Homo sapiens: one gene and its partners. The protein of the gene in region 1 interacts with the protein of each later gene in a biochemical or structural test. Each region holds a gene or a part of one and is shown in the gene's direction. Other genes may lie near its edges. The genes, in order: UBE2N, RNF38, HLTF, MIB1, RNF168, TRIM39 and TRIM63.

Region 1 (4,459 bases):
TTTGCAGAGATGGGGTCTTGCTATGTTGCCCAGGCTGGTGGTAACATTTTTTAAATGCTCACTTATTGGGCCAAGTGTGGTGGCTCACGTCTGTCATCCCATTGCTTTGGGAGGCCAGGGCGGGAAGATTGCTTGAGGCAGGAGACCAGCCTGGGCAACATAGAGAAACCCATCTCTACAAAAAAAGTGATAAATAAAAATGCCCACTTATATATATAGAGGGTGAACTTGCAGATTCTCATAAGTAACTTACAGTTGTGTACATAATGAAGAATTGACTTGCTTTATTAGTGATCCCAAAAAAGGAGCCCGTTTGTTTTATCTTACAAATTTTTCATAATTTTTTTCTTTATTTAAATTTTTTTTCTATAACACACAACTTTGTCCAGAACCCTGTTTGTTAATATTTTAGAATCGCTTAAAGATGTAGTGACAGGTTGGAGTTTACAGAGTAGGTATCATTGAAGCATCACTCAGTTTTTTAACACTTATTTTTCAGTAATGAAATTGGCAGTTACTGAGTTATCAGACAGCTCTTGTTTGAGATGAGCTAAAAGATCTACAGTTGATATTACTGGTCATATATTGCAATTTTGTGTTTCAGAGAATATTCTAAAAAACCTAATCACTGTAGACAGGATGCACTGGGATATAGATAGTTACTAACTGGACCAACTTTTCTCACACACAAATTAGCACTTTTTCTAAGAATACTGTTTATTACCCCAAAATTTTACTGTACATACTCCAATCATTGCCTTGCAGAAGAGCATCTAAGACCTGTCATTGCTTCGTACTGAGCACAAATTATTTTTCAACTTAAAAATAAGAGTCCTGGTTAATAGAGATAGGTTGACAGAATGTCAGTTGTTATAATTGACTAACTACAGTATAGTTTACAGTAGTGTGAGTCTAGGGTTTGCTCTTCAAGACCCAGTAGATCTGTTGATAATTAGATCAATTTGATGTGATATTTGATTCCTTTTAAAAATATTTGTAGCATTAACTATTGTATGCGTTCTATAAGATGAGATACCTTCCTTTAGACTTAATTTTGTGGACATTTAAATCCATACCCTATTCCTTTACCAACTTACCTGTCTATTTTAGTAACTAACTTCCTGAACATAGTCTACATTAACTAATTTCCTGAACATAGTCTACAGTGCTTTCTATTATGCATGGCCCTAAACTCACTTCTGTTTGGGATTCAATCCTTGGACTGCTTTTAAACATAATAGAATCACAAAATTCATTTAAGGGTTATTCTGTTTTTCTGTAAACAACTATGGCCTTCCTATGTGATCTCATTTGTCAACTTTTTTTTTTTTTTTTTTTTGGTAGTGATGGGGTCTCACTATGCTTGCCCAGCTTGGTCTGGAACTCCTAGCCTCAAGTGATTCCCCTGCCTGCCTCAGCCTCCCAAAGTGCAGGGATTACAGGTGTGAACCATGGCATCCCACCTGCAATGTAAATTATTTGTGCCAAAAGATAGATAAGGCCGGGCGTGGTGCCTCACGCTTACAATCCCAGCACTTTGGGAGGCTGAGGCGGGCAGATCACTTTAAGTCAGGAGTTCGAGACCTGCCTGGCTAACATGGTGAAACCCTGTCTCTGCTAAAAATACAAAAATTAGCCAGGTGCTCACTTGGACCCAGGAGGCAGAGGTTGCAGTGAGCCAAGATCGTGCCACTGCACTGCAGCCTGGGCAAGAGAGCGAGACTTGTCTCAAAAAAAAAAAAAAAGATAGATAAGTGAAACAGTAGGAATTTTAGCCCTTTACTTCTTCACTTAAAGAAATCATACTGTACTCTGTCTTTCCACCAAAGAATAGTGTAAAACCAGAAGGTATTTTAGTTAGTCATGTGTTGAATAGTGGCCGGAAAGATTTTATTTCCTAGCCAGTTTTTGCCTTTTTAGGAAAAAAGTTGACATCAGTTTCTGTGGTTGAGACTTTTTCAGATGCTGCCATTTCAGACTTGTTTCATTTAGTTTGGATTTTATTCCTTTTTTCCCCTCCCACAGTTTATGCTGTGGGTTTGTTAGGGAAACCAACAGTTTAGTGAAATAATTATGCATGTTTTTGTGTCAGTCCATTAGAACTTGAGAGCAGCATATATTATAAGGACTATTTCAAAATGTTTTCTACACACGAAAGCTTATTTTAGAATGTGTTCCAATTAAATCTAGGCTTGATCAGGTCACATGATGTGCTTAATATGTACATTCTTTACAAAGAATATCTGATTTTGAGGGTGAACTGAAGATGAGAAAGTAAATGCCATACCTATCTCTGCCACTGTGTATTGAGAGTGATTTTGAAGCTATTTTGGGATACGCTTTTGGAGGCCTTTCTGTAGCTTTTTATAGTAGATACAGAGCTGCTACTACTTTGTGTAACTGGTGAGTGGTGGATTGGGACTCTTGGGCCCTGGCTTTCTTTTTTTTCCAGTCACCCAATTTATGGCTTTCTAAAAACATGAAGACCTGGGGTAAAATTAAAGGATGGAGGTGAGGAGAGCCCAGAATTCAAGGAATTTTACCATCCAGTTATTTTCTCATTTTTCTACTCCTGCTATTCATCCCTAATATCTTAACTTTTTTCCTAAAAAATGAAGACCAGCCTCTTTTGTTCTGGTCACATGTTAAAGGACTTCCCAAGGTCAGAGGCTTCATTATTGCCTCTTGAGCTTTTTAATACTCTAAAAATGTTTTAGTTTGAACCTAAAGAACATGTCAGTTTCTCACTTGCTCTTACATCGCCATGATCAAAACAAAAAACTAGTCTTAAAATACCAGAGACATTACCTAAAATGGCCATGGGTTTAATTAACACATTTTGGGGAAGCATTTGATTTGTATTTACATCTTATGACTATTTCAGTATATTACTGTGCTGAGAGAGAAGTTATTTGTTGTTGTTGTTTTTAACGTATGCCCTGTAGCTTGTGGAATGAAACAGTTTATGATGTATTTTTTTTTAGGTGAAGGCAGTGTAAATAAAATGTTCTCATTTATTGTTTTTCATACCTAAAAGCTTATTTAAATATGAACATTTTTCTGGTTAAAAATAAATATAAGTAGAAGTTAGACTATTTTTCCCCATACCTGAGTGGCTCCTTTTGTTTTCCTTCCATAATGTGCACATCCTGCCTTGAAAATAACCCTGCCTTAATGATGTTAACGATGAAATTCTGATCGTTTATTTCCCTCTTTTCATAACATCAAATAGATTCAGAATTCAGTAAATATTAATTGAATATCTATTGTGCCAGGCAGTGTTCCAAATGCTGAGGATATAGCAGTCCATAAAATAGACTCAAATCCATCCTCTCATGGAGCTTAAATTCTGAACAAAATAAGTAGAAATGAGATTTGTTAGTAGTGCTGTGGAGATAAAGCCAGGGAGTGGGGATAGGGAGTGTGCAGGGTAGGGTTGAATGGGGTTTGCAATTTCAGTTATGATGGCTTCACTGAGAAAACATGAAGATCTTAGGAGCTGAGGGAGCAAGCCATATGGATATCTTGGGGAGGAAGAGGAAGTACAAAGCCCTTGAGGTGAGCGGATGCCTGGCACGTTGAAGAACTACAAGGAAGCTAATTTTTGTCTGGAACAGAGAAGGTTAGGGGATGGAGAGAGAACAGCTGAAGATAAGTCAGAGAGGTAGGTGGAGTGAGGGCATCATATAGAGCGTCTTTTGGGGGCCCATTACAAGGACTATGACTTTTTTTTTTTTTTTTTTTTTTTGAGACGGAGCTTCGCTCTTTTGCCTAGGCTGGAGAGCAATGGCATGATCGGGGCTCACCGCAACCTCCACCTCCGGGGTTCAAGCGATTCTCCTGCCTCAGCCTCCCAAGTAGCTGGGATTACAGGCATGCGCCACCATGCCTAGCTAATTTTATATTTTTAGTAGAGGTGGGATTTCTCCATGTTGATCAGGCTGGTCTCGAACTCCTGACCTGAGCCGATCCACCCGCCTCGGCCTCCCAAAATGCTGGGATTACAGGTGTGAGCCACCATGCCCAGACTTTTTTTGAGATGGAGTCTCGCCCTGTCACCCAGGCTGGAGTGCAATGGCACGATCTCAGCTCACTGCAACCTCCGCCTCCTGGCTTCAAATGATTCTCCTGCCTCAGCCTCCCGAGTAGCTGGGATTACAGGCACGTGCCACCATGCCCGGCTGATTTTGTATTTTTAGTAGAGATGGGATTTCTCCATGTTGATCAGGCTGGTCTCGAACTCCTGACCTGAGGTGATCCACCCGCCTCGGCCTCCCAAAGTGCTGGGATTACAGGCGTGAGCCACCGCACCCGGCTCAGGACTATGACTTTTAAAGGGTCTGTGGATAATAGACCTGCGAGGGAGGTAGTGAGGTCAGAAGCAGGAAGAACAGGTTAGGAGGCTGTTGTAGTATGCCAGGTCAGAGCTGATGGTTGCTTGGATCAGAGGTGTAGCAGT
Region 2 (4,459 bases), on another chromosome or scaffold:
GGCCCCCAGGGTCTTACCTTGCAGGAGCTGTGATTTCTTTCTTTTCTTTTTTTTTTTGAGACAGTCTTGCTCTGTCGCCAGGCTGGAGTGCAGTGGCACGATCTTGGCTCACTGCAACCTCCACCTCCCGGATTCAAGTGATTCTCCTGCCTCAGCCTCCCAAGTAGCTGGGACTACAGGTGTGCGCCACCACGCCCAGCTAATTTTTGTATTTTTAGTAGAGATGGGGTTTCATCATGTTGGCCAGGTTGGTCTCTATCTCTTGACCTTGTGATCTGCCCGCCTCGGCCTCCCAAAGTGCTGGGATTACAGGCGTGAGCCACTGTACCCGGCCCAGAGCTGTGATTTCATCCGTGTCTCCTTCCAAGTTCACTGGTAGAATGTGGTTCTTGTGATTATAGGACTGAGGTCCCCCATTTCTTGCTGGTCGTCAACTGGTGACTGCTTTCAGCTCCTAGAAGCTGCCCTCAAGCCCCTGCCACATGGTACCTTTCGCATGCCTTCTCACAACATCTTAGTCTGAAGAATTGGCAAGAGAATCTCTTGGGAAGGACTCAGTTCTGCTTTCTCTGATTAAGTCATGCCCAGGCTCACCCAGGATAATCTGTCTTTAGCTTGAATTCACCTTACTTGGAATCTTCATTACATCTGAACGTCTTTCCTCCTTTGTCATATGATTTAACCTAATAATGGGAATGAAATACATCACATTCACAGCCCTGCCTGCGCACATGGGGAAGGGGGTTGTACAGGAGATGGACACCAGAGGTAATCTTGGGCAACCTATGTATGGGACTGCCTGCCCCACACACACACACACACACACACACACACACACACACACACACACAATGTGTGTGTGTGATTTTATTTTACCTAGTAGTAAAAATTGTACCTCATTTTAATCAAGCCCATCTATGGTTTTGTCCCAGACTTATTTTGAATATAGCTTTTCTCCATTATATTGGTCCATCCTTTTTAAGACAAATGGAGCCTCTGATCAAAGGAAACTGTTGTGAGTAGGAGAGGATATGCTTGAAAATTATGGCCACAGGGACCAGGTTGGCCAGTTTTTCATTTGTCTATGACCAAGATCTTAAGATTTCAAAGGAACAAGGAATGAAGGAGAAGAAACATAACCTTGATTTGTCTTTTCCCAGCCAGCTACTTGTACTAGCAATTTTGTAAGACTGCTTTGGGCATGATAGTTGAAGGCAGGATGGCCTTAGGATAACACGCTACAAAGGATACATAATGAGCAAATGAAAAGCTTAAGAGGATGCAAAAAGATTCCTACATAAAGAAGCAAACCATTTTGAGAGAGTGGCAAAAGCCCTCCTTAGATTGAGTCAGGAATGTGAAATACTCCTTTTTCTATGAAATCTTAACTCTTACCTTCACATTAATTCAGAACTCTTACTCCTAATTTTTCCCTGTTTTATGGCCTTTAAATATTATGTTACAGTTGGCTGCTTGCATCTGGGTTTCAAAAATTGTTAGAATAAGCTTCTTGAGGTTAGGGCCCATGTTTTTATATCTTATTAGATTAACAAATACTTATTTTTAGAAATTGTCTCACCATGTTGACCAGGCTGGAGTATAGTATTGCAGTCATAGCTCACTGTAACCTCAAACTACTGGGCTCGAGTGAAGCTCCTGCCTTAGCCTCCTGAGTAGCTAAGACTACAGGAGTGTGCCACCATGCCACACTAATTTAATTTTTTTAATTTTTATTTATTTACTTATTTTTTTGAGTAGAGATGGGGTTTTCTCTATGTTGTCCAGGCTAGTCTTGAGCTCCTGTACTCAAGCTCTTCTCTCACCAGGGCCTCCCAAAGGGTTGAGATTACAAGTGTGAGCCACTGCATTTGGCCTGTCTCTATATTCCTAATGTAATTCTTGGCTTGTAGGAGTCAGTCAGTAAATACGCCTTGATTCAGCAATGCATACTTCTGCGTAATGGTAAAGGATAGCACATTCATGTTTGTAGTATAGAGATCAGAACATTCTGTACAGAAAACTAATGAATTCTAAAGTTTCTGCTTTCAAGTGCTTTGTTTTTTACTTCTAGGTGAGTCTTTGGAAGTATTTTTACTCTTACCAGTGGGCACAGTTATCTGTTTACCAGGTCCATAGCAAAGCAGAAACAAAATACTATAAAAAGGCTAAGGAAGGTAAGGGTATTAATATATTAACAGCAGGGATATTAATAGCATTTCATTTTATGATCGGTTTCTGGCTGCTTCCTTACTATCTAGCCATACTAAACGTTTTGCAGTTTCCTGACTACACTGCTGTCTCTTGGCAGCTACTTCTCCATAGCACCTAGTGCCTAGCGTTACCATAATACTTACATCCTGCAGTGATTTACTTTTGTTTCTTTCTTATAGCATATACTTTTTGAAAGTAGGAAACGGGCCGGGCGCAGTGGCTCACGCCTGTAATCCCAGCACTTCGGGAGGCCGAGGCGGACGGATCACGAGGTCAGGAGATCGAGACCATCCTGGCTAACACAGTGAAACCCCGTCTCTACTAAAAATACAAAAAATTAGCCAGGCGGGGTGGCGGGCGCCTGTAGTCCCAGCTACTCTGCAGGCTGAGGCAGGAGAATGGCGTGAACCCCAGTGGGTGGAGCCTGCAGTGAGCCGAGATGGCACCACTGCACTCCAGCCTGGGCGACAGCGAGACTCCATCTCAAAAAAAAAAAAAAAAAAAAGTAGGAAACGATGCCTTTGTTTTTGGTTTAATGCCTGTCACCAAATAGATGCTTAAATGTAGGATTGAGTGAATGAATGAGGCAATGAAACTCTAAAAAGAAGACCATGTTAAAGTATGTAACTTTTAGTGTAGGTACAAGAAGGGACCACGAGCCTTAACCCCCCAAGAAGAATTCACTGTCACAGCACAGTGGAACACATTATGTTCATGATTTTTTTTTTAATGTTACAGAGTAAGTATATTTACATATGAATTTAAGAGGATTAACCCATAATCAAGTCAAACATTTATTTTTGTTTTTTAATTTTTGTAGATAACTGGGGCGATCCTCCCACCTTGGCATACCAAAGTGCTGGGATTACAGGTGTGACCACTGCATTGGCCAAATCAAGCATTGGAAATGTGGCAGTCATTTACTTTTGTGCTTATGATTGTGTCCTTTATTCCTTAGGAAGGTCTTTAGGTTTGTGTTGAATAGAGCTGAGATTTCTGCAGTCAAACATATGTTTGCTATAGAAAATTTGCCACAAATATTGTTAAATCTGTCATTTTCCTTTGCATGATTATTTGGAAGGTTAACTAAAAAACAGAATGAGAAAAAGTATTAATCTTGGTCCAGGCAAACACTTAACCTTTCTGTACTTAAGATATGTAATTTTACCTTGGGTTTTCTTAGCATGAAGTCTGTCCTTTAGGATTTCGGAATTAACACCAGCAGAAAAAGTTACCAATAGGTATTTGGGAAACAGGAAGGACGTGGTGTTCTTGGGCTGTGCTGTTTTGCCTCCAACAGTTTTTGTAAGAGAGATCCATTGCCAGAGGCAACCTTTGCCATCTTTATGTTTTGATGTTTAAAATTAATTTTTAATTTCTTTCCTGTCTTCGCTAGCAGAATCATCAAATACCTAGAAAATCCAGACTATCCTTCATAGGCGTGATTCTCCACATTGGTGCAGCTAGCCATGAACTATCCTTTTCTTCCTCTTTTTCCCAGATATCTCCCGGGGCCAATTCAGCATCTCTACCTGGCCATCCTAACAAGGTGATTTGTGAAAGGGTGAGACTTCAGAGCCTGTTCCCTCTCCTCCCAAGTGATCAGAACACTACCGTTCAAGAGGATGCTCACTTCAAAGCTTTCTTCCAGGTTCTTATATATTTACCCTTTCCCTACATAGGGCTGAAAGTCACATTCTACAGTGTTTCTAGGAAGGCTTGAAACAAAATGCCCAATATCGTCTCCTTGTTTTCTGTTGTATGTGGAAATAAGTATTCTTCTTAGAGGACTTTAATATTTTTTCAGCCAGCTTTTCTGACTAATGTTTGTCTTCTTGAGCTACTCAGCTACTGTTAATTATTTGACTACTTAATATTCTTGTGTTTTGATCTTTTGGTCTTAAATCACTTGTCCTAATAGGTCAAGTTCTGTAGGAAAGTAGAAGATAGTGTAGAATATATGAAGTTGTGTAGGAAAGGAAAAATGAAAGCATGTAAGATGTTCACTAGTTACTTGCTTGGCACCCAGAGTTCGATAGTAACATACATTTCTGAGAGAAAACATGGTTACTTGTCTTCTTTTACCTGTGGGTAAACGTGAGTTAAAAATTTTTTTTTAAATATAAAATGAAAACTCGAAAGTAAGGTGTGTAAATGGATTGAAACTCATTAGGTTATTAACAAGATTACTGGAATCTGCCCATAGAAATCATTGGCTACCAAACTTTCAATCCATATTCCTAGAGAA
Region 3 (4,459 bases), on another chromosome or scaffold:
AAATAATTTAATCAAATGTTTTGAGTTGTTCTTCATAATTGCCCGTGATATAACAACATTTGACTTATTGATAATTTATGGAACAGTCACTAGACTTATTCTTGAACCTTGGAAATGGAGTAGACACTCTAGTGGAAATGGAGTAGACACTCTAGTCATCCAGTCATAATCTTGATTTCTGTTTCCCATCCTCAAACCTGTTTGCCATTCACAGTACCTTTACTAGAAGGTAAGGAAAAGAATGTAAACTTAAACTAGTTGCTTTTTCCTTCTGCTAGTGCTGCTGCTTTAAAAACTAAATAAGCAGATGTACTTGATAAGGAGAAAGTTGAATTTTCCAGTCTTTTTCTTGGCTAGTGTGTCATGTGAGAGCTAAAAATTAGAGCAAAACTGTATCTTGAGATGTGTATATTTTTAATAAATGATTATAGTCAACACTTGATAGTTTAATTTAATTGATAATGATGAGCCTGGTACAGAGTGCCCATTTTCAATTGTTGTCTTCTCTGATTGGGCCAAATAGATACTCTTACTGGATACTCTGGTTAAAGAGTTATAACAGTTTCCTGTTATTTCTAGGTACTCCAATCCAGAATTCTTTAAAGGACTTGTGGTCTCTTCTTTCCTTTTTAAAACTTAAACCATTTATTGATAGAGAATGGTGGCATAGAACAATACAGCGTCCTGTCACAATGGGAGATGAAGGAGGACTTAGGTAAGTACTTTCAGACAGTGATTAATATTAGTTACAAATAACTGTTAGTAGCTTGAACCAGTTGGCACTTTCTTTACTATTTTAACTTGACTCTTAACTTTTCCTTCTAAAAAGTGTTTATGGCTCAGTACCTTTGTCTTTCAGAACCTAGTGATGCTTGTTTGGAAAGACAAAGATTTCTAATTGTCGATAACTACCCTTCCCCTGTTGTGGCTAAACTGAAAGGAAAGACATAACTGTTTTTTGTGTGTTGCTAAGCCCCAAAGCCCCAAAACCAGCATTAACAGATTTAGCAGGAAACATCGTATATCCTTTGAGGATCTAATATGCATTAAGTTTTCATATCTTATATAGCTTTATTTATTTATTTATGTATTTATTTATTTGAGATGGAGTCTTGCTCTGTCGTCCATGCTGGAGGGCAGTGGCGCGATCTTGGCTCACTGCAACCTCCGCCTCCTGGGTTCAAGCGATTCTCCTGTCTCAGCCTCCCAAGTAGCTGAGATTACAGGTCTGCGCCAGCATGCCCCGCTAATTTTTGTATTTTTAGTAGAGATGGGGTTTCGCCATGTTGGCCAGGCTAGTCTCAAACTTCTGACCTCAGGTTATCCTCTTGCCTCGACCTCCCAAAGTGCTGGGATTACAGGCATGAGCTACCACACCTGGCCTTACATAGCTTTATATAGTGAATGATGTGAGGTACCATGACCTTAGCAAAAGTTGTATAGGAAAGTTTTATGTGGTTGTTTCTGGTGGAGATAGATAAAAGTTGAGAACATAAATTAAAACTCAGTGATAGCCATTTTGCAAGATGTAATGTGGTTCAACTTTTTGGCTAAAGCACCGGTTTATAGACTGAAGATTTGAGAGCTATTAGTGGGATATAAAATCATTATAAAGGTGGTAGCCAGCATTTAAAAAGACAATGAAATAGAGAAGAGATTAGTAAATATCGGAGTGCATGATACATAGTAAGTATTATTTTGTGAAATATTTGTTTCTTTTGTATGTGTTTGTATATTTTTGCTGGATAGAATGTGTTTCTTACTGTGAGTTATAGTGAGAAAGCTTCAAGAGCCACTAACCTAGTTGGCAGTACTATCCACTTGATTCCTCAAAACCAACTATTTAAACTCCAGGAAATTGTATTTATATTTCAATGTTGGGAAAAAACAAGAATTGATACATCTCTTTTTTTCCAGTACTGAGAAAGAAATGTAAAGATTGTGGAACCTGTAAAGCATTTTTCTGTGTTCTGAATTACCATATTATCTTTTTATTTTGGGGGCACTCATTACTTTATACAATTACTTATTTATATACTTTTGATTTTAATATTACAGAATGTAGTATCTTACCCATATTTGTATTCTTACAACATTTAATTCAGTGCCTGGCACTTAATAGATACTTAGAATTTGAGTGTTGACTATTCGGTGATGGAGTTGACAGGACAGTTGAGAAGTAAAAGAGTTAGTGATTGGAACAAAAATGGGGAACAGAACTTACGAAAATAAGGACAGGATATAAAAAGATTAAACTATGTTAGGTATTGAGGGGAAATTTCCATACATTTGTTTTAATAATTTTATTTTTGTAGAATACTTCTGTGATTATCAGATTGGTTAAAATCCCAAATAAGGGATTTTAAAAACACTTTTACAGAAGCTATAAAACAGTAACAAATTAAAATGTTCTGTTTCGTTCTTCTTGGATCAATTTATGTAGAAATTAAAAGTTACATAATTATTTGTTTTATTCTGATTAGGCGTTTACAGTCCCTAATTAAAAATATTACACTTAGAAGAACAAAGACAAGCAAAATTAAAGGAAAACCTGTTTTGGAGTTACCAGAACGTAAAGTATTTATTCAGCACATTACACTTTCAGATGAAGAGAGAAAGATTTATCAGTCTGTGAAAAATGAAGGCAGAGCCACTATTGGAAGGTATGGAGAAAGAAAACCATGTTAAAAATTAGTTTTTGTTTACTTTGTTTCCCATTCACTGAATGACATTATTTAGATGTGTTAGCAATAGTTTGAAGTATACTGAAAGATAATTTGCTTCTATGAATTACAGTGTTTTTTACAAATCAATAAAGTGAATGAAATAATAGTATAATTCACCAGGTAAGTAATTTTTTAAGTTAGGAAATAATTTAAAGCTTACTTTAAATGACAAGTTCTCAATTGCTAGCCAGAAGATTTTGCTTGCTTCTATTTCCAAAATCGTATGGAAATCTGGAAATAGGAACTGATGAAATAGGTTTAACAAGAAGATTAAGGATTGGTAGAAGGTATGAAATTCTGGTCCAAGCAAGATCAGGTTTAATGTGAGCCCACAGGGAACAGAATGAATAAGAGACAAGTGAAAGCAGAATAGGACTGTGAAAGGGGAATCTTCAAAACATAAAAACTTCAGTGAGGTAGGTACAAAGCAGGTTTGATAGGAATTAGAGAGAGTGGGAAAGATTGTTCTAAGCAGCAGATTTCTGAGTTCAAAATCTTCTTTCTTTTCATATTCTTTCAACAAAAATTTATTAAGTGCCCACTGTGTGCCAGGCACTTATACCCATTGGGATACAGCAGAATAAAACAGACAAAAATGCCTGCACTCGAGGAATTTATATTTTAATGGGAAGAAACAGATAATTTAAAAACATGATTAAGTTTTAAGGAATAAAGCAACGAAAGGGGATGGGGAATGCCAAAGCTGTTTTAGTAGGGTATTAAGGAAGACCTCACTGAGAAGATGATATATAGGTAAAGATCTAAAGGAGATTGGGATTAAGGGGTGTTTCAGCCAGAAGGAAGAGCAAGTGTAGATGCTCCCAGTTGGGAACATGCCTGGTGAGCTTGAAGAATAACAGAGAAGCAAGTGTGGCTGGATAGTATGAACGAGAGAAAATAGTCATGATATCAGAGATTTATTGGAATGGGGGTATGTAACGCATATGTCAAGGACTTTGGCTTTTACTTTTTATGACAGGAAACCTTAAAGGGTTTTGAGCCAGGAGAGGGACGTAATCTGATTTATATTTTTAAAAGATCACTCTGGCTGCTGTGCTCAGATTTAGGTTATTTGAATAGGAATAAGGTCAGAAGTAGGGAGACCAGTGGCAGTCAAAGCAAGAGATGATGGTGGTTTTTACCATAGTAGTGATAAAGGGAGTGAGAAATGATTAGATTCTGTTAAATTGTGAACGTAGAACCAACAGAACTTGCTGGTTGATATGTTATGGCATGTGAAAGAGGAATCAAAGATAACTTCAAGCCTTTTTACCTGCATAAGTGGAAGGCTGGAATTGCTGTTTACCAAGACAGGTCTATGGGAAGAGCAGAGATTTTTTTAAGCTAAGATCAGAAGCTCAGTTTTGGACACATTGATCATAGGATGCCCGTGAATTTTCCAAGTAGAGATATCAAATAATTAGTTGGATAGGAGAGTCGAGTTCAAAGTCAGCTATGTGTGGATGGTAATTAAAGCCATGAGATCACCAAGGGAGTGAGTAAAGTGAAAGAGATCTAACTGTGAAGATAGCAATGGCTGGTGAAATAGGAGGAAGGAAGCTTCTAATATTTAGCACATGGTAGGCACTCAAAAGAGATCTCTTAAATTGAAATGCTGAGTATCAGTAAGATATGACCATGCCAGGGAATAATTAGTGTTAGTAAAGGTTATTCTATTTGAAAAAGTTGAAAAAGATTAACTTTATTGAAACTGTTCTCAGAAAATAAGTTAT
Region 4 (4,459 bases), on another chromosome or scaffold:
TTTGTAATCTTATTGTCTCCTGAGTAAATATACACATAAATGTTTGGGGATTCATTGCTGCTAGATTATATCAGGTGTTTACATAGTGTCTACTATATGCTGTTGATAAGCTTTTTCCTAAAAATAGTTATCCTCTTTTGTAGTTTTTTTCCCTCCTTTAAATCTGGCTAGCTTTTCTTACTTCAGTTTTTATAGAACACCAACTAAATTTGAAAGTATGAAGTCTCTAGCCCTCTTACACTGTTTCTGGCTGTTTAATCCTTGCTGCCTTTGCAAGTCCTGGTGAAAGCAATGGGGAGCTTTGCTGGCTGGTTTTGTAGTCTCAACAATTCCATGTCTGTGTTTAGCTGAGTAACTGCTATCATTTAGAACAGTAAAATTTTTATAGATTTCAAATTTGAAAATTCATGTACACTCAGTTATCTAATAAGGGGCCACCGACGCTGTTTTTAAAACTATTTTGAAGTTATAAAAAGGTAGAACATCTGACTGATGATGTTCACATAAAGAGACAGACAGACTATCATGTTGCAGACATGAAAACAGCATGTCAGGTTTTTCCTTTCCTTCCATGCCATGGGCTACCCATCTCTTCCCACTAGATCACCTGGTGAGGAGGGAGCACCTGGCTGACTCATGCAGAGTTTGGCCAATCAGAGAATTGTGTGGTCTCCAGCTCTACTTTCCTTAAACAAATCCTTTCTGTTTTCTGAGCTGCAGTGCTAAAACAGATCCCTAAAAGGTAATAGCATCTTCCAGACTAGTTTAATTATTTCCTTTATAAGAATATGACATAAATTTTTATTATAGAAATAATGTCATTATAATTTTAGTGCTAGTACTTGTGGGTTTTCTGTATTTGTATCACCTTGAAATTTGTTCCATGAATAGAAAATACTTCTTTATTCATGTTTTCAATCACTTAGAATTATTTTAAATTTATTTTGGGTTTGTGAGAGATAATAAGATTAAGAACTTCATCATTTCAGTGACTTTCCTCCAACTCTCTGAATCTGCTACCTCTTATTATATGTCCCTTAGCAGTACTTTTCCAGTTAGGTTCGTTACCCTGCTCATTAGCTAAACCTCTTTATCTTGTGCCTCAAAAGAGCTTTTACTTTTCTTAGAAACATTTATAAAAAAGAAAAAAACTGACACGCATTCATTCAAAAAAGTATTTATTGGGCTTTAGGGATTAGATACACAACAGTGGAAAAATGGCATCTTAGCACACTCAGAATTTATTGTGCAGCAGTTGTGTATTTTAAGGAATCTGTAGTTAAAAGGAAGAGATCCAAAGGTCCTGATAACATTTCCTAACGTTTCAGAAGAGTTGTCATTGAGTAGTGTTTGGATTTCCTCTCTGTATCCCTCACCCTACCATTTTCTCCTTTATTCTTCTAAGATTGTTAGCGTTGTTACTCAAAACATACACATACAACATACCAGATGGTGCTGTTCTAATGGTATTTGTTCACGTAATTTAACGTTCTTACTGCTTATACTATATACATATTTAATTTTGTTGGGAGCAAGAAGGTTTTCAAGAAAAGATAATTTTGTATTAGTGTAGGAATATATTAGACAAATGTTTAGTTGGTCAAATTATGCATAAGATATTTGTAACTTTAAACATTGCAAATTGACCAGCTAGCTATGGAAGCATAAAATTAATTGATAATTAATGTTGGAAATACATTTCTAAAATTTATATTTTTATGGTGTTAGCCTGTAAGAGCATTTTAGCATATTGAAATGCATGCTGCTTAAGATGTGTCTGGTTCAAATATCAAAACTTGCTGGGTCATTTTTACATAGTAGAAACATACTGTCTATGTGTTGCCCAATTGCTGTTTGTCCACTCTGAATTCTGGACCCTTTTTGGACTAAGAATTAGTTAAATTCATGAACTAAGAGAATTAGAGATGGGGTAGAGTAGGATCAGGACAGTGGGGTTACAACAGATAGGAAAGGAAAGTCAGCATTTGAGTGTAGAGAAAAAAAGAGGATCATACAGATGTCATCAAATTATAGGCTTTAATACAGGTTGCTTTTTTTAATCCAAAAGGAAAAGCACTTATCCTATCAGAATGTCTACCATGTTTTATAGTAATAATTTGTGTAAAAAATTGAATTTTTGAATAGTTTTTTGTATTTTTTGTGATGAAAAACTCATAACATAAAATTTACCATATTAACTGTTTCTAAAGAATACAGTTCAGCCATGTGAAGTACATTTACACTGTTGTGAAGCAGATCTCCAGAACTTTTTCATCTTGCAAAACTGAAACTCCATACCCATTAAACAACTCCCCTTTTTGTTTTCTCCTCAGTGGAATAGAATTTTGACTCCATATAAATCAAGAAACACCTAAATTCTTTAGTTGTTTGTGTTTGCAAGATCTAAGGTCATGGTAAACATTAAGTTCTTAAAATTTTTGGGAGGGACAGTGCACCTCTCCTCTGAATTGTTAGCAATTAAATTGAGTAGGTTTTAAATGTCTATTCATTGGAAGGGTTTGTTATTTCATTTTGAGCCAGAGGGGAGAGGCACATTTTAAATATCAGAATTAGATTAGCTTTGAGTTTGTACAATTGGGAACATAATAGATTTTCATAAATTATGTGTGCCTTGTTGGAAGTGTCAACTGTCTTTATGTCTGCTTGTAAAAGTTTCAAAATATGTTTTCCCTCAAAAAGGCAACGTTACTTCATTTGCTTGAATATTATGATAGGAATGCTTACTGATATTACTTGATAGTCATATATAGCCTAGGAAATTTAACATATATATAACTATAGCAGTATTAATAATGATAGTTGTACTTCTTTAAAACATTAAATTTGAGGAAACTTTAATGCTGTCTCGTGTACATTGCTTTACTACAGTGAGGGGGAATATCCTTTAGATTGAGCCTCAATTTACTGGTTAGTAGTATGTGAAACTCTGGTATAAAAACGTAAACTAGACAGTAGAGCCGATGAATTAAAATTGTAAATTGCTACATTGGCATTTTCTACCTCCTTTTCTGTCAGAGTATTACTTTTTCCAGCATTTATTCTTATTTGTGAGTAAAGAGGAAATGGGAACCTGAGGTTAAAATTGACATTTTTGTTTCATTGAGAATTTAAGCAGTAGGTACAGGAGAAGTGACTTGTCACATTAATTTGGTGCCTAAATCTGTAACTACAAGTTGTGATCGACATGTACAAAATGTCTAAGAAAGGTCATATGCTGAATATTTTACTTTTCCTGTATAGTCTGCATGATTTGTTTCATAAACCCAGCTTATTTCCTCCAAAAAGCAAAATGGTCCTGTAATTTTTAAAGTAAAATAAACGTGCCATTTTGTCTGCAATCTATAATTTCAGGAAGTTATTGAAAGTTCTGACTCAGGGCTTTTTAACAGTTCAAGCAATTGTCAGTTATATTTTGGAAACTCCATCTGTGTAATTCTCCAGTGCCTTGAAAGAATTATTAACTTGGCAACACTATTAAAACTTTATAAAAGATGGTCTTTAGTGCACGTGTATCATTATATACACGTTTTAAAGTCATATTGCTTAGCTTGTTAATAATGATTCTGCATGTGTGCTGGGTTTGGGTAATTCTTTAAAGGAAGTTTTCTAGATTTGCACTTGATGTTTGTTTTTTAAAAACTGATTATTTATGGCCGTGACACTGTTACCAGAAAAGTAATTCTAATTAAGTTATTATGCAAAGTCATCTATAAGTAGCATCTGGGAAGAGGAGATCGAGGCCACAGTTTGCTATTTTAGTATGAAAGGAGGATCTGTTTGGGAAACATAGATTGTCTTCCCCTCAAATGAGGGGAAAAAAAAAAGACCCTTTGTTCAAATGGATTCTGTTGTAAAAAATTATTTTTAAAGGAAATCACAAATTGTATGTCATTCTTAATGCTAGTCTTATAGAATAAATCCATAAAATTGTTTTTATGTTCAGTATGTTTATGTCATTCTAAATGCAGCAAATTCAATGATAGCAGTTCAATTGACTCATAGCAGTGTTTTGTATTTTTTCTAATTCTTTAGCTTTCAATATTGGATTAAAGTCTTGTTTGTGAATATAGTTTCCGTATGGCAAATGATTTCTTGCTTATTAGCTTTTGTTAAAGAATGCTTAGTAAGAGCTAAGCTTTTAAAAGTAATGCAAACATTTATCGTTAATAAAACCTATGGTGTAATATCATATAATGCTTTTCTTTGATCTTTGGAGAATTATTCTTTTATAGTAGTATACATGAATTTTGATTTTTAAAGCATTTAAAAACAAATCTCAATACATTAAAAAACCTGTTATTGTTAAAAAGGAAATTACCATGCCTTTAAGAAACAAGGATGTACATCTTCAATTCAGCATAAGTGTCCACATCTAGAAGGCTCTCATTGCAGTTGTTTACAGTTAAGGTACCTCTATCTAAAGGGCCAAAGAAGCATT
Region 5 (4,459 bases), on another chromosome or scaffold:
GTGTGAGACCAGCCTGGCCAATAGGGCAAAACCGTCTACAAAAAATACAAAAATTAGCCGGGTGTGGTGGTGGGCGCCTGTAGTCTCAGCTACATGGGAGGCTCAGGCAGTAGCATTGCTTGAGCCTGGGAGGTGGACACTGCAGTGAGCTGAGATTGCACCACTGCACTGCAGCCTGAGTGACAAAGTGAGACTCTGTCTCAAAAAAAAAAAAAAATAAATTTAAAAAAAGAAAGAAATAGCAAATGGAAGGCTGGGCACGGTGGCTCACACCTGTAATCCTGGCACTTTGGAAGGCAGGTGGATCACCTGAGGTCAGGAGTTCAAGACCAGCCTGGCCAACATGGTAAAACCCCCGTCTCTACTAAAATTACAAAAAATTAGCTGGGCGTGGTGGGACATGCCTGTAATCCCAGCTACTCAGGAGGCTGAGGCAGGAGAATTGCTTGAACCCGGGAGGTGGAGGCTGCAGTTACCTGAGATTGCGCCATTGTACTCCAGCCTGGGCAACAAGAGCGAAACTCCGTCAAAGAAGAAAAAGAAATAGCAAATGGACTGGATGCAGTGGCTCACACCTGTTATCCCAGTGCTTCAGGAGGCTAGGGCAGGAGAATCGCTTCAGCCAAGGGGTTGGAGGCTGCAGTGAGCTATGATCCCGCCACTGAACTCCAGCCTGGGCAAGAGTGAGATCTTGTTTCCAAAAACAAAAGAAAAAGGCAAATGAAGACAATTTTAACTTGTGTCTGCAGTTGAATAACTCACTGATCTTAATTTAGATTCAGTTTATGTAGAAATAAGTAAACTTTAAAAATCTGTCATTCCACGGTTTAACAAAAGTTCAGCTCTCTGCTTGCTGTAGTTGGGCATCTTCTGTAAATCGCACGTGCCTTTCCTTTGCCTGTTGTGGTTTTTAATTGATCTGTGGAAGTTCTAGTTATATTCTGGACACTAATTCTCTGGTGATTTATGTATTTGCAAATAACTTCTAGTTTGTTTTTAACTTTGTGATGTCTTTCATCACATGGAAGTTTTAATTGTTTTGGAATTTATCTCATATGTTCTTCTTAGTCGTTTATAGTTTTGTTTTTTTCCATTTTTTAATCCACCTTGAATTCGAGTATTGTATGAGGTAGGCATCTTAACTCCCCCTGCCCTTGATTGCCACTTAATAGCCACACTACTTGGTAGTAATACAGCCACATTGATATACGTACTATTTCACTAATCATATGCTTATTTTCCAGAGCAATTTGGGGCTATTTATTTATTTTATTTATTTATTTATTTATTTATTTGAGATGGAGTCTCTCTCTGTCACCCAGGCTGGAGTGCAATGGTGCGATCTTGGCTCACTGCAACCTCTGCCTCTCGGGTTCAAGCGATTCTCCTGTCTCAGCCTCTTGAGTAGCTGGGATTACAGGCGTGCACCACCACACGTGGCTAATTTTTGTATTTTTAGTAGACATAGGGTTATTTGCCTTGTTGGCCAGGCTGGTTTTGAACTCCTGACCTCAAGTGATCCGCCTGCCTCCACCTCCCAAAGTGCCGGGATTACAGGCATGAGCCATGGCACCTTGCCTGGGCTTTTTATTTTTTAACTATCTCTTTATCAGTAGCTGTGTCAGTACCACACATGCTTAGTTTAATTCTGCTTAATGATATGTTTTGCTTTCTAGTATAATACATCTGTCTTATTATTGTTTTCCTAAATTAGCTACTTAAAAAAAATTTTTTTGAACAAAGATGGGGTCTTGCTATGTTGCCCAGGCTGGTCTTGATAGCCTGAGCTCAAGTGGTCCTCCTGCCTCAGCCTTCCAAAGTGCTGGGATTACAGGCATGAGCCACTGTGCCCAGCCTCTTAGCTACTATTTTATTGTATCTAATGTGTAAAGTGATTTACTTTTTTTCCAGTTTTATTGTAAAAGATACATAACATAAAATCCGCCATGTTAACCATTTTTAAATGGACAGTTGCGTGACATGAAGTACATTCATGTTTTTGTGCAGCCGTCACCACCATTCATCTCTGAACTTTCTCATCTTCCACGCTTGAAACTGCCCATTAAACAATAATTAATTCCCCATTCACCCCTCCCCTGGCTGCTGGCGACCTCCATTCTTTCTGCCTCTACGGGTTTAATTGCTCTAGGTGTCTCGTACGAGTGGAACCCCACACAGTGTCTGTCCTTTGGTGACTGGCTGTTTCACGCAGCGTAGTGTCTTGAAGGTCCATCGTGTTCTAGCACGTGTCCATTCCATTTCCTTTTTTGGCCGCATACTCCATTATGTGTGTGTATATATCTTAATGGATGACTATTATAAAAAAAAAACCAAGTGTTGGCTGTCCTCTGAAGCGGTATCTCCGTACTCAGGATTTGCACTTCCCTAATGACTAGTAATGTTGAACATGTGTTTTTGTTTGTTTGTGAGACGGAGCCTCCCTCTGTCGCCCAGGCTGGAGTGCAGTGGCGTGATCTCGGCTCACTGCAAGCTCCGCCTCCCGGGTTCAAGCAATTCTTCTGTGTCAGCCTCTCGAGTAGTTGGAATTACAGGTGCCTGCCACCACTCCCGGCTTTTTGTATTTTTTGGTAGAGACGGGTTTCACCGTGTTGGTCAGGCTGGTCTCAAACTCTTGACCTCAAGTGATCCACCTGCCTCGGCCTCCCAAAATGCTGTGATTACAGGCATGAGCCACTGTGCCCGGCCTACTGTCAGTTGTTTTATTTGGGTTTTTTGTTTGTTTCTTTGTTTGTTTGTTTTGAGACGGAATCTCCCTCTGTCGTCCAGGCTGGAGTGTAGTGGTGCAATGTCGGCTCACTGCAGCCTCCGCCTCCCGGGTTCAAGCTATTCTACTGCCTCAGCCTCCCGAGTAGCTGAGACTACAGGTGCGTGCCACCACGCCTGGCTAATTTTTGTATTCTTAGTATAGACGGGGTTTCACCATATTGGCCAGGCTGGTCTCGAACTCCTGACCTCATGATCCGCCTGCCTCAGCCTCCCAAAGTGCTGGGATTACAGGCGTGAGCCACCGCTCCCAGCTTACTTTAATTTTTTAAATGAAAATAGTTTGACTCTGCAGTTTCCCTGAAAAAAAGTCTCAGATACCTCCAGGGTTTCGTAGATTCTACTTTAAGACTTGCTGATCTAGGTCTCAGTTTAAGCCAGCTGATTATCCTTCTACTTTTTAAGGAGCCTTATATATGTCTCTCCTGTGTATACCATTGTATTGTCTTGAATAGATCCTCCTTAGTGACTAAAATAAATGAGAATTCAGCATACTGCATCCCTAATTGTTTTGGAGTTACATCACTGTTTTTTAGTCTCTCTGTTGCAGATTTTTCAAACTGCTGGCCTGCAGGCCATAGGAATCCTGTGTGCATGTTTTTTGTGACCCATCCAATGCCACTATTTAAGTTGGAAGATTTCATATTAACATCTTGATTGCTGGATTTTCTTTTTTTTTTTCTTTTTACTTGGATAAATTTATGGGGTGCAAGGGTAATTTTGTTACATGTATAGATTGCACAGTGGCGAAGTCAGGGCTCTTTAGGGTATCTGCTACCCAAATAATGTACATTGTACCCATGAAGTCATCTCTCACCATCCACCCCTGCCGCCTCTGGATTTTCTTGAGAAAGCAAAAAATATGGCACGGACAGGCCTGAGTTTCCTGGTAGTCGTAGTCAGCTGGAGTTGAGTAGCAGCTGCCCCTTGAAACAGACAGATGCGTTCTCTTTTTTGGATGTTCCCTTTTTACACTTTATAAAACAGTGTCTTGTTTTATAGAATAAAATTCTCATCAGATTTGTTGAGGATACATACCCACATTTAGGTTATTTTCTGACCCAGAATTATCTTTCAACTCCAGGGTGATGATTTTTTCTCTTTGTATAGCTTACTGTTTCCCTAGTCCTGCAGATGTATTTCAAATGTCTGACGATCCTTGGATTAGCTTTTAGGTTTGAGAATGAGGCCCAGGAGAAAAGCTCTGTGTATGTGGAAGGGTATTGGTGATGGGCAGACGTTGAGTTCAAGCCGATGGAAACCTGGCCTTTGTGCTTTGCCATCCCTAACTGCCCGATCGCAGAGGACTTTGCTCTGGGTCACCACCTATTACATTAGCTGCTCTGGCTCTCTCTAGATCTGTTTCTTTAAAGAAATATGCGTGTGTGCACCTGCACCCATATCCAGGGAGAAATGCCGGTAAGTCGAGGATTCTGATTTAACAGCTTATAAATCTCGAGTTCTGTTTTCAGTCCCACGGTTACTCACTCTGGACTCTATGAGCCTCTCTCTAGGCAAATAGGAGGCAGATTCCCTTCTAATTCTACCTCAGCTGTAGTCTTCCCTTTCAAGGATTTCTTTTCCTTCATTTCTGCTGTATCAATTATCTCTATTTCATTGCCTTCCCATTTTCTAGAAATTTGTTAAAAATTTTTTAACTGGAGCCGGGCACGGT
Region 6 (4,459 bases), on another chromosome or scaffold:
GCCTGAGTTAGTGAAAAACTATGCATTAAAAATTTTGTAAATGCAGTTACCATTACTTTTAAGTCCTGAAATTTGATTTATGTACTGCTGAAAAAGGACAGAAACATAGTTTAAAGGATACAGGCATACCTCAGAGATATTGTGGGTTCAGTTCCATACCACTTCAATAAAGCGAGTATCTTGATAAAGCAAGTCACATTAATTGTTGGGTTTCCTAGTGGAATCATATTTTTGCTGGTGGAGGGTCTTGTGTTAGTATTGACTGATCGAGGTGGTGGTTGCTGAAGATTGGGGTGACTGTGGTAATTTCTTAAAATAAGACAACGACGAAGTTTACTTTCAACTCTTCCTTTTATGAAAGATATCTCTGAGCATGTGATGCTGTTTAATAGCATTTTACTCACCAGTAGAACTTCTTTGAAAATCTTTGAAAACCCACATTTGCAGTTACTTACAACATGGGAGTCTTGAACCCCTAAAAGTCATCCATAAGGGTTGGAATAGACTTCTTCTAAATGCCTGTTAATATTGATATTTTGGCTTCCTTTCACAAATCACAAATGTTCTTAATGGCATCTAGAATGGTGAATCCTTACCAGAAAGCCTTCAATTTACTTTGCCTAGATCTATCAGAAAAATCACTATTTATAGCAGCTTTATGAAATACATTTATTAAGACTTGAAAGTCCAAATTACTTCTTGATCCATGGGCTGCCGATTGGATGTTGTGTTAGCGGACGTGAAAACAACATGAATCTCATTTTACATCTCTATCAGAACTTTTGGGTGATCAAGTGCATTGTCAGTGAGCAGTAATATTTTGAAAGGAATCTTTTTTTCTGAGCAGTAGGTCTCAACTTAAAATTTTCAGTAAAGGGTTGGGCACGGTGGCTTACACCTGTAATCCTATCACTTTGGGAGGCCAAGGCAGGTGGATCACCTGAGGTCAGGAGTTTGAGACCAGCCTGGCCAACATGGTGAAGCCCAATCTCTACTAAAAATACAAAAAAATTAGCTGGGCATGGTGGTGGGCGCCTGTAATCCCAGCTACTCGGGAGGCTGAGGGAGGAGAATCGCTTGAACCCGAGAGGCAGAGGTTGCAGTGAGCCAAGATCATGCAGTTGCACTCCTGCCTGGGTGACAAGAGTGAAACTCCATCCCCCCAAAAAAAACTTCAGTAAAGGCTAGGCACGTTGGCTCACATCTGTAATCCCAGCACTCTGAGAGATCAAGCCAGGAGGACTGCTTAAGGCCAGGAATTCAAGACCAGTCTGGGCAATATAGCAGGACCCCATCTCTACAAAAGGTAATTTTTTTTAATTAAAAACATTCAGTATACCATGCTGTATACAGGTGTACTGTCATGTAGGCTTTGTTATTCCATTTCTAGAGCACAAGGAAAGTAGATTTAGCATAATTCTTAAGAGCCCTAGGATTTTTGAAATGGTAAGTGAGCACTGGTTTCAACTTAAAGTCACCAGCTGCCCTTGCTTCTAATAAGAAAGTCATCCTGTCCTTTGAAGCTTTAAAGCCAGGCATTGACTTCTCTCGAACTGTGAAAGCCCTGGATAGCACCTTCTTCAATAGAAGGCTGTTTGTTGACATTGAAAATGTGTTGTTTAGTGTAGCCACCTTCATCAGTAATCTTGGCAAGATCTTCTGGATAACTTGCTGCAACTTCTGCATCAGCACTTGCTGCTTCTCCTTGCACATTTTTGTTACAGAGATGGCTTCTTTTCTTAAAACAACCTACCTAACTTTAAACTTTTCTTCTGCAGCTTCCTTACCTCTCTCAGCTTTCATAGAACTGAAGGAGTTAACAGCCTTGCTCTGGATTGGGCTTTGGCTTAAGGGAATCATGTGATCTTATATCCAGATCACTAAAATTTTCTCCATCTCAGCAATAAAGCTGTTTCACTTTCTTATCATTCATGTGTTCACTGGAGTAGCACTTTTAATTTTCTTCAATAACTTTTCCTTAGCATTCACAGCCTGGCTTGGTGTTTGGCACAAGAGGCCTAGCTTTCAGCCCATCTTGGCTTTCAATGTGCCTTTCTCACTAAGCTTAAACATTTTTAGGTTTTGATTTAAAGTGAGAGACATGTGATTCTTCTTTCACATGAACACTTAGAGGCCATTGCAGGATTATTAATTGATATAATTTTAATATCGTTGTGTCTCGGAATAGGGAGGCCAGAGGAGATGGAGAAAGATGAGGGAATAGCTGGTAGTGGATCAGTTAGAACACATAAAATATATTTATCGATTAAGTTGTTCGTCTTATATGGATGCAGTTCACAGTGCCCCCATAACGATTACAATAGTAACATCAAAGATCACTGATCACAGATCATACTAGATATAATAATGAAAAAGTGTGAAATATTGTGAGAATTACCAAAATGTGACACAGAGACATGAAGTGAACACATGCTGTTGGAAAACATGGTGCCAGTAGACTTGCTCAACACAGGTTGCCACAAACCATCTATCTGAAAAACATACAATGTCAACAAAACACAATAAAGCGAGGTGCAATAAAATGAGGTATGCCTGAAATTGTTTAAATAATATATTGCTTTTGATATGTATATATTAATAATACCTCTAAAGTGTTTGAAATATTTTGTTCTCTTACGTAAATGAATGGTGTTAGCAAAACTAGGGAACATATTTTTTATCTTAGAGATTAGATTACCAGCATTTGAAGCAGTGAGGCTTCATTGTACATTTATTTTTATGTTACGTATTGCTTGGTATTTGTTCCTATGGCCTTTCATGTATGTGTGTTCTGCCTTCCATATTAAACTGGGAAATCCTTGTGGGACAGAGATTTGTCTTCTTTGTCTTCTGGACCCCAAGTATTCACAAATCAGTATTAGCACACAGTTATTAATGTGTTTATTCTTCCTTTTTTTTTTTTCTGAGAGAGTCTTGCTCTGTCGCCCAGGCTGGAGTGCAGTGCATGATCTCGGCTCACTGCAACCTTTGCCTCCTGTGTTCAAGCGATTCTCCTGCCTCAGCCTCCTGAGTAGCTGGGGTTACAGGCGCACACCACCACACCTGGCTAATTTTTGTATTTTTAGTAAAGACAGGGTTTCACCATGTTGGCTAGGCTGGTCTTGAACTCCTGACCTCAAGTGATCCACCCGTCTTGGCCTCCCAAAGCGCTCAGATTACAGGCGTGAGCTACTGTGCCCAGCCAGTTATTGATGTTTATTAACTAATGCAAGACAGGGGATACCAAACCGTAACAGGAATGTGTGATTTGTTCCTATGCCACCAGTCTGGAACTCTCTGTACTTATCCTCAAGGAGAGTGAGATATGTGGTTGGTACTTGGGGGACAGAGTAAAGAATTGATACAATCCCTGTCCCTTATAGGGAGCTCCCAGCATCCTTGAGGAGCAAAGACAAGCATAAAAGAAATCATTGGGAAGTGATATAAATGACCAAGCTTCATGATGACCAGAAGTTGAAAGTAGGGATTAGGTTGGGAGAAGTGCATTCAGGTCCCGCTGGAGCTCTTCTTGCACTGTGTGACCCTCAGTTTATCCTATCCCTATTTTATAGCTGTGGAACTTTGGGGAGGAGGGGGAACCTTTTGCCTTCAGGACCACTGAATACCAGGACCAATATTGCTTTCTTTTCTCCTTCCTTCTAGGATGTCAAAAGTACCCTGGAAAAGTAAGTGATTGTTGTATCTCTCTGAGTGAGTTAGGTCTTGGCTTAGAGAGGAGGGGTACAGTCAGGAGTTTGGGTTGGGGGTGAGGTTGGGAAAGTCATGTAGTGTGTCTGGGCAGGGTATGGGAGAATGTTCATTGTGCCCATGAAGCCAGTTAGAGAACAAATTATTGGGAATAATAATCCCTTTTCCCCTTTGAACATCAGGACTTCTTGAGAAGGAGAATGATAAGGTAGAATCAGATTCTACTTGTGCCAGTGGGTGGAATTGTGTCCAAACAAGATGGCAGGAGGAAGGGGTTGGGAGAGCAGGGAGGGCAATCATCCATTTGCATGAAATACAGGAATATTCCTAGAAAGTTCGGAGGCTCACTCTCAACGATCTGTCCACGGGATCATAAGGCTCTCCTTGGATTAGTAAAAGAAATCAACAGGTGAGCTTTTCAGGGAGGAGGAAGAAAGTGGGAAGATGGAGAATTTTAATTTCTCCCTAAAAATGTTAACATCTGAATAGTCACTTGGCTGGAGCTTCTCCCTAACCCTGCCCTTTCTTCCCCTATCTCCCTATCCCTCCTAGATGTGAAAAGGTGAAGACCATGGAGGTGACTTCAGTATCCATAGAGCTGGAAAAGAACTTCAGCAATTTTCCCCGACAGTACTTTGCCCTAAGGAAAATCCTTAAACAGCTAATTGGTGAGTTGTTCCCAAAAGGAAACTAGAAGAAACCACTAGAGAGAAGAAAGTTTTTAGGTCCTACCTTATATGGGTTTCAGTTA
Region 7 (4,374 bases), on another chromosome or scaffold:
AGCCCCTACTGTAGGCCAGGCACTGAGGTGGAAGACAAGGAGATAAACCAGACACAGCCCTGCCCTCAAAGAGCTTGTTGGGGAGGACAGAAAAGGCTCAGTTATAAGACTTCATAGTTCAGTTCAATAAAAATGTTCTAGGCTTCTACTGTGGGCCAGGCTTTTTGCTAGACATTAGGTATGAAAAGGTGGTTAGGATTGGGGAGTTCAGGGTTTAGGAGTTTTGGGATTGATACCCCTAGAATCCAAGCTTCCTGTCAAGACAGTGGGTCCTAGGGTGATGACCAAGACCTGTACAGACCACAGACAGAGGGAAAAGTTCCAGATTCTGCTCAGTTTGGGGTGGGGAGCAGGTCACAACTGGGCTAGGGAATGGCACCAAATATCTACCTACAACACCTAGTTCACTAGTTTTGCTGATTTCCTGCGGTTACCTCTTCTGCGGTCCTAATCCTTTGTTCTCTCTCCCCCTGCAGACTGCCAAGCAACTCATCAAAAGGTCAGTGTCTTCCTAGAGGCTATGATCCAAGCACCTAGTTCCCACCAGGACCTCTGTCCAGGAAGCCTCATCCTGGGCATTAGGCCTGCTGGGAGGGTCTCACTCTAGGCTGGCTTCCCTGACCCTTTGCATCCCTGACTTTTTGGACCACTCCTTGTGCTTGAGGTTGGAGAGGAAATACTCCATCCCTCCAGGGGAGCCTCTGGGTAGAAGGCCTGGGCGTGGCAAAGCATGTGCCCTCTCTTCCCTGCACTGAGCCCCAGAGACCTCATCCTGCCTCTCTTTCTGTCTCCCCTGCAGCATTGTGGAAGCTTCCAAGGGCTGCCAGCTGGGGAAGACAGAGCAGGGCTTTGAGAACATGGACTTCTTTACTTTGGATTTAGAGCACATAGCAGACGCCCTGAGAGCCATTGACTTTGGGACAGGTAAAGGAGGTGGTGATGCCACTTGTCTATTTGCCTGCCTGACCCCTGGAAACCAGCATCCCTCCAACTGAGCCCGATGGGGAGGCAGATACACTAATAAAGATCCCCAAATATCAATCAAACTCATATAGCCAACTTCTGGCCGGCTGTGGTGGCTCATGCCTGTAATCCCAGCACTTTGGGAGGCCAAGGTGGGCGGATCACTTGAGGTCAGGAGTTTGAGACCAGCCTGACCAACGTGGTGAAACCTCATCTCTACTAAAAATACAAAAATTAGCCAGGCGTGATGGCATGTGCCTGTAATTCCAGCTACTTGGGAAGCTGAGGCAGGAGAATCACTTGAATCCAGGAGGTAGAGGTTGCAGTGAGCCGAGATTGTGCCACTGCACTCCAGCCTGGGCAAAAGAGCCAGCCAAACTCCATCTCAAAAAAAAAAAAAAAAAAATTCATATAGTCGATTTCTAGATGAGCCCAGAGCCTAGCACAGTGCCTGGTGCAGAATTCCTGCTTCATAAATTACATATGGATCCATGGCAGGGAGGCCTCTTGGGGCAGTAGAAATAATATGCCCTCTGGAATCAGACAGTCCTGAGTTTAAATCCTGGTTCTGTCATTTGTTTATCTGTGTGACCTTTGGCAAGCCCCCTTCTGCCTGAGTTTTATTTTCTAATTTAAAAAGTCAGGTTAGAAGTGAGCCCTCTAATAATGACCAACTCATGGTGCTGTTGCAAAAAATCAGATATCAATGCAGAAAGGTCCTGTAGAGCCCTAAAGATGTACTAGTTATTGCCTAAAGGTAGTCTTAGCTTCAGTTTCTTAATGCTATCACCTATGATACCCAGGCACCTTAATTGATCAACATCATGTCCTCATTTCTGTTTATAATTACTCTTCCATAGAGTGCCTATAATAATTGTAACAATGCAACCGTAACAATAATAAGGGTGAAAATAACAAAGGAAATGAAGAAACTGAATGGAAGCAAATATGTTAATTTGCTAAAGGTCACACAGCTAAAAGGGAAACACAGCTAAAAGGCAACAGAGAAAGAGAGGGCAGATCCCACATTGCTGACTGTTGCGTTGGTCTGAGAGGTGGTGCTCCAATGACCAGCTGAGGTTGGGGGACAAGGGGATGATGAAGGAACAAGGAAGAACTGTAAATGGCTGGCGTGAGAAAGAGAAGAGCTTCTTGGCACCTCCTGTGTCGCTCTCCTACAAACCTTCAGTAGCTGGTGCTAAGTCTGTTTTCAGAGCCCCAGATATACCCCATTCATAGGTAAGGACAAAATACATCCCAAAGCAGAGACACCAATGGCCTTGGGGACATCCACTGCTGTAGTGAGCTGCTCCACTGTCAGCTTCCCTAAGCTAAGATATTCAAGAGTGGGTCAGCCAGGCACAGTGACTCACGTCTGTAATCTCAGCACTTTGGGGGTCCAAGGCAGGTGGATCACCTGAGGTCAGGAGTTCCAGACCAGCCTGACCAACACGGAGAAACCCCGTCTCTACTAAAAATACAAAATTAGCTGGGCATGGTGGTGCATGCCTGTAATCCCAGCTAACTCGGGAGGCTGAAGCAGCAGAATTGCTTGAATCCGGGAGGAGGAGGTTGCAGTGAGCTGTGATCACGCCATTGCACTCCAGCCTGGGCAACAGGAGTGAAACTCCATCTCAAAAAAAAAAAAAAAAGAAAGAAATAGATATTCAAGAGTGGGTCATACGGTGTGAACATAACATTGTGAAGTCCTGCACTGGCCTTCCTAATCTCCCTGAGCCTCAGTTTCTCCACAAGTAAAATGAGGAGAGTACCAACAGTCACCAGTTACTGAATATTCTGTATGTCCTAGGCGCTAAGCCCTTAACATAAGTTTTATCATTTAACACAACTTCATGGGATAGGTTCTGTTACCATCTCTATTTTGTAGTTGAGGGAACTTAAAGCTCAGAGAGGGTAAGCCACTTGTTCAAGGCCACACAGCTGGCAAGTAGCCTGTGCAGATTCTACTGAGGGCCATTTGGCTTGCAAAACTCTTGTGAGGATTTTATAAGACGATGCAGATTCAACACTGAGCACACTACTTGGCACATAGTAAGTACTCAGCAACTGCTATTAAATGTAGTCATTGTGACAATGATTAAACAACAGAACTCCCTGGGTTATACTCTGATATCAGTTACTTGGCTGGAATTTTGGTTGTCATTTTGGAGATACTATTTTTTTTTTTTTTTTTTGAGACGGAGTTTTGCTCTTGTCGCCCAGGTTGGAGTGCAATGGTGTGATCTCAGCTCACTGCAACGTTTGCCTCCTGGGTTCAAGAGATTCTCCTGCCTCAGCCTCCCAAGTAGCTGGGATTACAGGTGCATGCCACCACACCCAGCTAATTTTTTGTATTTTTAGTAGAGACAGGGTTTTACCATGTTGGCCAGGCAGGTCTTGAACTCCTGACCTCAGGTGATCTGACCGCCTCAGCCTCCCAAAGTGCTGGGATTACAGGTGTGAGCGACCAAGCCTGGCCTGAAGATACTCTTGACAAATGTTCTGATTCTGTGGTGACCCCTTCAGGGCCCCAAAAGGTTAAGGAGGTAGCTTGGGAGAGGAGCGGGGAAGGGAGATGTTCCCTGTTAAAGCTTGACGGTGACATCTCAGGATAAAAAAGTGGGGACATGAGTTGCAGCTCAGTCACTGTCCCTCTGGTGCTCAGCTTCAGGGAGCAGAGGTGGCTCCAGAAGTGCTTCCCCATCATGTCCACCCCTCCCCTCCACAGGCTAAGGAATGAGGAAAATGGGACAGTGGCTGCTGAACAAGCAGATCTCATAGGCTAAGTAGCTTCCTTCAAGACAAGGACTCTGATCCCTGAGGATCGAGGAGGTTTTTCCTCCTCAGGCAATGTTTATCTGCCTACCCGAGAGATGTGCAGAAGCACAGAGTGCGCTTCCTCAGAGTCCCCTCTCTGGTCACAGGCGAGCAGGTGATAGAAGCTGCTGTTGCTGGAGCAAGGAAGTGACTTGAGCCCAGCTCCCTGGGACGGAGTGCGGGGGATTGCAGGAGCAGGGCCTCTGTGCAGCGTGGGTCTGGCAAGCCCATCCCCTCCCAGACCACTGCCGCCGCTGTGTGGCCGTTTGACCCGACTGGGCACAGGAAGGGGTTTAGACCGTGCTCTCTCTTGCCTGGTTCCTCTTCAAGTAGCTCCTCAAGGAACCGGCCCCATCCTAACACAAATGTTTTTTTGTCACAGATGAGGAAGAGGAAGAATTCATTGAAGAAGAAGATCAGGAAGAGGAAGAGTCCACAGAAGGGAAGGAAGAAGGTAAGAAATTCATCTACCTCCATTCCTTCGTTCCTTCATTCATTCCACAACAATCTGAGGTGCCTACTGTATGTGAAGCACTGTGTTAGACATTGGCAATGACGCTCAGAACTGTCCCCAGCACGTGCTTTAACCCTACT

The links.
Region 2: the proteins of UBE2N (region 1) and RNF38 are reported together in a solved structure, tested with the Homo sapiens proteins (one study listed by BioGRID).
Region 3: the proteins of UBE2N (region 1) and HLTF form a complex in vitro, tested with the Homo sapiens proteins (2 studies listed by BioGRID, with this or other methods).
Region 4: the proteins of UBE2N (region 1) and MIB1 form a complex in vitro, tested with the Homo sapiens proteins (one study listed by BioGRID).
Region 5: the proteins of UBE2N (region 1) and RNF168 form a complex in vitro, tested with the Homo sapiens proteins (2 studies listed by BioGRID).
Region 6: the proteins of UBE2N (region 1) and TRIM39 form a complex in vitro, tested with the Homo sapiens proteins (one study listed by BioGRID).
Region 7: the proteins of UBE2N (region 1) and TRIM63 form a complex in vitro, tested with the Homo sapiens proteins (2 studies listed by BioGRID).

The regions. Positions count from the first base shown.
Region 1 is NC_000012.12:93,413,738-93,418,196, reverse strand, and holds part of UBE2N (ubiquitin-conjugating enzyme E2 N), read left to right. Parts: intron 1-4,459. UniProt on the Homo sapiens protein: The UBE2V1-UBE2N and UBE2V2-UBE2N heterodimers catalyze the synthesis of non-canonical 'Lys-63'-linked polyubiquitin chains. This type of polyubiquitination does not lead to protein degradation by the proteasome.
Region 2 is NC_000009.12:36,389,870-36,394,328, reverse strand, and holds part of RNF38 (E3 ubiquitin-protein ligase RNF38), read left to right. Parts: intron 1-714; exon of another isoform or gene 715-768; intron 769-2,159; exon of another isoform or gene 2,160-2,174; intron 2,175-3,712; coding exon 3,713-3,862; intron 3,863-4,459. UniProt on the Homo sapiens protein: Acts as an E3 ubiquitin-protein ligase able to ubiquitinate p53/TP53 which promotes its relocalization to discrete foci associated with PML nuclear bodies. Exhibits preference for UBE2D2 as a E2 enzyme.
Region 3 is NC_000003.12:149,044,284-149,048,742, reverse strand, and holds part of HLTF (helicase-like transcription factor), read left to right. Parts: intron 1-579; coding exon 580-715; intron 716-2,483; coding exon 2,484-2,663; intron 2,664-4,459. UniProt on the Homo sapiens protein: Has both helicase and E3 ubiquitin ligase activities. Possesses intrinsic ATP-dependent nucleosome-remodeling activity; This activity may be required for transcriptional activation or repression of specific target promoters.
Region 4 is NC_000018.10:21,865,961-21,870,419, forward strand, and holds part of MIB1 (E3 ubiquitin-protein ligase MIB1), read left to right. Parts: 3' UTR 1-4,459. UniProt on the Homo sapiens protein: E3 ubiquitin-protein ligase that mediates ubiquitination of Delta receptors, which act as ligands of Notch proteins.
Region 5 is NC_000003.12:196,489,614-196,494,072, reverse strand, and holds part of RNF168 (E3 ubiquitin-protein ligase RNF168), read left to right. Parts: intron 1-4,459. UniProt on the Homo sapiens protein: E3 ubiquitin-protein ligase required for accumulation of repair proteins to sites of DNA damage. Acts with UBE2N/UBC13 to amplify the RNF8-dependent histone ubiquitination.
Region 6 is NC_000006.12:30,336,245-30,340,703, forward strand, and holds part of TRIM39 (E3 ubiquitin-protein ligase TRIM39), read left to right. Parts: intron 1-3,663; coding exon 3,664-3,686; intron 3,687-4,027; coding exon of another isoform or gene 4,028-4,117; intron 4,118-4,260; coding exon 4,261-4,376; intron 4,377-4,459. Other genes in the region: TRIM39-RPP21 protein, read left to right, coding at 3,664-3,686, 4,261-4,376.
Region 7 is NC_000001.11:26,053,753-26,058,126, reverse strand, and holds part of TRIM63 (E3 ubiquitin-protein ligase TRIM63), read left to right. Parts: intron 1-476; coding exon 477-499; intron 500-799; coding exon 800-924; intron 925-4,162; coding exon 4,163-4,234; intron 4,235-4,374. UniProt on the Homo sapiens protein: E3 ubiquitin ligase. Mediates the ubiquitination and subsequent proteasomal degradation of CKM, GMEB1 and HIBADH.